Regions from separate parts of the Homo sapiens genome. Here region 2 is linked to region 1. The links come from fine-mapping of genetic effects on gene expression. Tissue or cell type: lung. Region 1 holds a variant in brackets; the other region holds the start of a gene. All regions are shown on one strand. Distances are between the middles of the regions.

What was found. PIP is the estimated chance that this variant, and not a neighbour inherited with it, causes the effect.
Region 2: QSOX2 starts here. The variant in region 1 is fine-mapped to the expression of QSOX2 in lung (TOPMed, PIP above 0.99).

What each region holds. Positions count from the first base shown.
Region 1 is chr9:136,216,051-136,218,727 of GRCh38, forward strand. It overlaps QSOX2 (quiescin sulfhydryl oxidase 2), which reads right to left. Exons shown (of 12, transcript NM_181701.4): 8 at 2,629-2,677; 9 at 550-672. Among named protein-coding and RNA genes, the nearest start is that of LHX3, 12 kb to the left of the region's middle. RefSeq lists an enhancer at 1-460. The variant A/G (reference allele first, on the strand shown) is at 1,351.
Region 2 is chr9:136,244,751-136,247,427 of GRCh38, forward strand. QSOX2 (quiescin sulfhydryl oxidase 2) reads right to left here and starts at 1,062. Exons shown (of 12, transcript NM_181701.4): 1 at 726-1,062. The coding sequence starts at 1,053. RefSeq lists silencers at 590-999, 1,030-1,299.

The DNA of each region.
Region 1 (2,677 bases):
TGCTGTGTGCACTGACCACGCGGGCGTCGGACAAGCAGCACGCTGGGTTTACTGCCCGCGAGTAAACACTCTGGGGGCCACAGAGAAGCTGCTGATCTGGACTAAGGAGGGAATGGCAGGACGGAGTGCCAGGACCTCTTGGGGTGCTGGTCCCCTGAGCAAAGACTGGCACCTGCTGGCACCTGGTCTTGGGGAAAGCTCTGGAAAGGCTGCCACACTTACTGAATACATCAGTTTTCGTCAGATTGGCTTACTAAAAATTTAAAAAGCCCAACTACTACGTTGCTTGAGAAAACCCCATTTTGTCCAAAGGACAGGTGGTCACAGTGCACTTTTGGTGAGCTGTCCTTAAACTGAAGTCCCAGCATGACGCTGCCAAGGCAGACAGGAGGCCATGGCCATGATGCTGTCGTGGAGACAGTAAGTCACTGCTCCCCTTCCTCACAGCGGAGCCCGGGCCCCGAGCAGGGAGATGCACCAGCTAAGGGCAAGGGAAGGAAGGCGAGGGAAGGAGGGTGCAGCGTGGCTGGCGAGGGTTCTGGGGCTCACCCGCATCTTGTTGTTGACCAGGTCAAGCACGGCGTTGTAGGGGATCCTGTCCAGGGGAAGGCTGGCCAGCCACTCCTGCAGCATCTCCAACAGCTTCTTGACTGGCGGCCGTCCAGGGAACAGCTGCATGAGGAAGGAGCCACCTGAGAGCTACAGACCCAAACCCGGGCCCGCCCCCACCGCGGGGGGCACCGCACCTCCAAAGAGAAGCACTCCATCCGCAGAGGGGCTGAACCTAGGATGGGGCCTCTCATAACTCGGGTTTCTCTGATGGGAGGCAGGAAACCCAAGGGGCCATGGGGTGGGCATCTAGCCTGCGCCTCTCCCCAGGACAGCCTGTGCCCACGGCCATGCCTTTCTCCAGCCCGTGCCTGCAGCTCACCCACCTGCGCCCACGGCCTCGCTCCGGCCAGGTGACAGGCAAGGTCACGGTGTGTGACTCATCATGGAGCTGGCGGGGGCTTGCTGATTTATTCTGCCTTCCTCACGAGGAGCTGTGCTGACCCCGCCTGCCCGCCCGCTGGGCTTCCCCTCTGCCGTCACTGACTGTATGAAGGGCGCGCGGCAGTGCACATGCGCCGGCAGCCGGGGCTAACTGCCTATGGGCTTGTGTGGGCCGTGAGGCTGGCCGACATCAACACAGCTTGGGGAGGCGTCTGGCTGAGAAGATCCCAGGGCTCTGTCTTTTTAGGAGAAACTCTGATCAGCTGCTGCACCACAAACTGTGCAAAACATAGGCTGCCGAAAGAGCTCCGAAAACCCGAGCTGAAATCTCACGGGTGGCAATGCCAGACCAGAAAC[A/G]CCAGCCACCAAAAGAGTTCCTCAAACCCGAGCTGAAGCTCACAGGTGGCGATGCCAGACCAGAAACGCCGGCATCTTCAGCTCAGTCCAATATATTTTCTCCCGTGCAGGTTAAAAAGTACCATGATTAATTTACCAGAATCAAATTTATTTTAGACATCCAAGTAAACTTCAGAAAAATATTAAGAATAACTTATTAATACCCTGGCCTCAGGAGTTGCCCAGAGCACAAGTGTAAAAGCTCCAAGCCTAACTAGACTAAGGGGAAGACGGAGAAGCCGGGAGAGGAGAGCAGGTCTGCCTAGCGACAGCTGTGCGACTCCAGCGAATTAGCTGGCCGGCGGCCACCACCACTAAGAGCCACACTGTCCTCCACTAATATGATGGACAGATTAGCAGGACACTTTCTTAAAGGAAATGAGGCCAGCTAGAGATTTCTGAACTCTGGATGGCACCGTGGGGGAAAAAGCTGCCTGGGCAATGTTCATGCATTCATCTGAGGCACCTCCAGTCCTTCAAGATTTCCTGTACTTTTCACAAATCACTTTGTAAGTAAACTCTATCCAAAGTGCTCACTATAAATTATTCTATCATGCATCTTATTTTTGGCAAGATAAATATTTTAAGCCTAAGCCTTCTTGTCATTTAGACAGTAACAAGCAACCGAGCTCATGGAGTTACACCTGGCCACCTCCCTGGCTGGTCCTCTTCAGCCTGACCCTGGGCACGGCCAGGCCTGAGCTCTGTTGGGTGGCATCTCTGCCCGCTCCTGGCGACCCCCTCAGTGGTCTCAGACACCACATCTGTGCTGGTGATGGTGCTGAGCGTGAAGCTCCCAGGACCCCTCCCTGAACCTGGCTGGTGGGGCAGATGCACACCCCACCTGGATCTGCACAGCCCTTGCCTCTCCCTCTCTCTCTCCCCCCAGCCCCCGTGCAGCGCTCCTCTGAGAGCCAGCTGAGGTGTGTGTGGGCCTCCGCTCCCTCCTCCATCTACTCTCCAGGCAGCCAGAGCTGGGCTTTTCCAGCAGGTGCTCGGCTCACACCCCCGCCCCTCTCTACACCCACCGCCCCAGCCCCAGTGCTGGGAACAGCAGTGGACGCAGGAGGCACTCGGGAAATGGGTGGAATGAGTTGGGGCGTGGGCCTGGGCGACAAAGCAAGGTGGAGAGCACCTCAGCGGAGCTGGCGGAGCCCCCGCAGTGTCCGACGCCCCCCAGGGCCCACTCTGTGCAGAGCCAAATTCCCACATGCAGCCCAGACCAGCACCGTCCCAAACCTTGGCCAAGACAGTCACAAAGTCCTTGAGCGTCTTCAGCTCTGCTCCG
Region 2 (2,677 bases), 29 kb after region 1:
AGTGCGGAACACTACCAGCAGTTTGGTGAAAGATTTCTCAAAGGCTGTGCATCTGTGATCAAGGAGCCCACCAATGAAATTCTTTGTAGAGTTAAAAAAATTGCTTTATAGGTTGTTTTGGGGTATTATAGAGAAGTCTCCAGAGTATTTGGACTTCTAAGTTGTGGGTTCACTTTGAGCACCCACTATATGGCCAGCGATCCGAACCAGAAAGTTAATGATGAAGGTTCAAAGGGAATGGGGTGGCTACGAGTGTGGAATAGGAATGAGGGATCCTCAGAGAACAGGAATTCTGGGCACTGGGGATGGGGTGTGTGGACGCTAGGAAACAGGTAGGGTAGGAGGCCTGGAAGGTCAATGAAGTTCTTGGGGCTCAAAACATAGGTATTTTGAGAGCTGGGATACGGGAGGGCTTCCCTATCCCCAAGCGTGCGGTGAGGGCTGCGGGAGAATGGTTTCATTTTGACTTCAGACAGCCCAACTCGTCAGGATCTAACGGGGATTAACTGGGAGAGACATGGGGAGCAGCTGGCTTAGTCTCCCGCCCCTGGAAAGGCCAGGGTTGGTCCGAGTCGGGTGCCTCTGTGGGGCAGGGACTGGCTCTGCGGTAAGGAAAGAAATACGGGGGAGGGGCCCCGGGACCCGCCTTCTGGGGCGGTCGCAAGGGGTCCCGGAAGGCCGCGGTCCCGGGGGTCGGGGGGTCCCCGCGCGGGGGCGCGCCTCACCTCGCACATCCCCAGCCAGGGCCCGCCAAGTGGGCGCGTAGCCGATGCAGTGGCCACACCACGACGAGTAGAACTGCACGAGCCACGCGGCCGAGCTGTTGGCGGTGGCCCCGCGCACGCTGCCGCTGTCCAGCACCCACACGGCGTCCTCGCCCGCGCGGTACAGCCGCGCCGCACCGCCCGCGCCCGGCCCCACCGCCGCCGCCGCTAGCAGCACTAGCAGCCGCGGCAGCCGTGCGGCCCGCGGCGGGGGCGAGCGCCGGGCTCTCAGCGCAGGTCCCGCTCCGATTCCCGGGCTGCGCGCCACCGCCGCCCCGGCCGCCGCCATGTTGGAAGTGCCGCCGGCGCGCTGAACTTTCACCCTGGCAACCACCGTCACGTGCGCCGGCGCGCCCGGCCCCGCCCCCGCGCGCCCAGTTCTGTTCCGCCCCGCCCCCTCACGTCTGACCCCGCCCTCTCTCCCCGCCCCCGCCCCCGCCCATGCGTGGCAGCCCCGCCCCCAAGAGTCTGATGACGCCATCTCCCCGCCCAGGCGCGGCAGGCTCCGCCCAGGCCCCGCCCCACCCCGCCGCGCGTTCCCCAAACCCCTTCCCTGAACAGGGCCAGGTGGCCACATTTAGCAAATGGAAGTGCACGACGCCAGGTTCAACGTGAATTTCAGACAAACAGTGAGTCGGTTTTTCAGCCTAGGTCTGTGCCATGCCTGAAATACAAATTTAACAAGACATTCTTAGACGTAAAAAACTATTCCGGGGTTCTTTTACTTGGCAACCCCACCTGGGGCTTCAGAGGGTCTGCAAGCCAGCCTCGACTTTTTAATATGATATTGGAACGCTTAGAAAATGCAGCAAAACATCCACTCAAAGTCAGATGTGTTGTGTGCTACCTTTTAGGATGTTCCAGTCGAATGCAGCTTCACGGTTTGGAAATGAAATCATATGACTTTTTTGCTTCATTGAACAGGATACCTGATTTTTTTTTTTGTTCCTATTCCTAATTTTTACACATGTCAAGATTTTCTCTGAACTGTGTGACCAAAACAAAACAAGGGAGTGGGCGAGCCTGGGCAACATAGCGAGAGCCCATCTCTTAAAAAAAAGAAAAAAGCCGGGCATGGTGGTGCACACCTGTAGTCCCAGCTACTTGAGGGGCTAAGGTGGAGGATGGCTTGAGCCTGGGAGCTTGAGGCTGCAGTGAGCCGTGACTCTGCCACTGCACTCCAGCCTGGATGACAGAGCGAGACCTTGTCTCAAAATAAATAGATAACTGTATTGTGGGGTTCTGTGTAAGATTTTGTTTAAAAGGTTTTGCTGCTAACAATGGTTAACCCCAGATGAGAGGATTCTCCCCAGAGGGCCCCTGGCCAAGGCGTCTGCTCCCTTTTCCTCACGTCCTGCGTCTCCCTGTTCATGTTTCCTTCCATCACCCACGTTTCCTGGCTTCTGCTCTGTGCCAAGCCCTGGAGACAAATCAAGAACAAAACCGAGCCCCCAGTGTCCCTGGCCTGCATTTGGGCAGACCCCAAACAAACCAACGCGTAAAGCAGCCACCGCGTGCTATGAAAAGCAATGAAGCCGGACACGGAAGCAGGTGCCAGCAGGGCTGCCGTACAGAGGAGGGTGGGGAGGTCTTTGAGAAGGTGACCCGAATGGAGAAGGAGGTGAGGGAGGAGGCACACATGCAAAGGCCCTGGGGCAGAAGGGTGCTGAGCACGCTGGAGGAACAGCAAGGAGCCGGACCTGGTGGGAGCGGAGCAAGCTGGGGGAAGCGTGGGAGGGAAGAAAAGCTGAGAGCCCGAGCGAGACCCAGGGGGCCTCACAACCTGGGCCGCAGACTCAGACTTTGATGCTGAATGGGGGGGTGGCCACGGAAGGATCGGTGCAAGGATGCAGCTCTGCCCTTCTAGTTGCAGAGTAGGAGGGGCAGGAGGGGAAGCAGGGGACCTGGGAGGG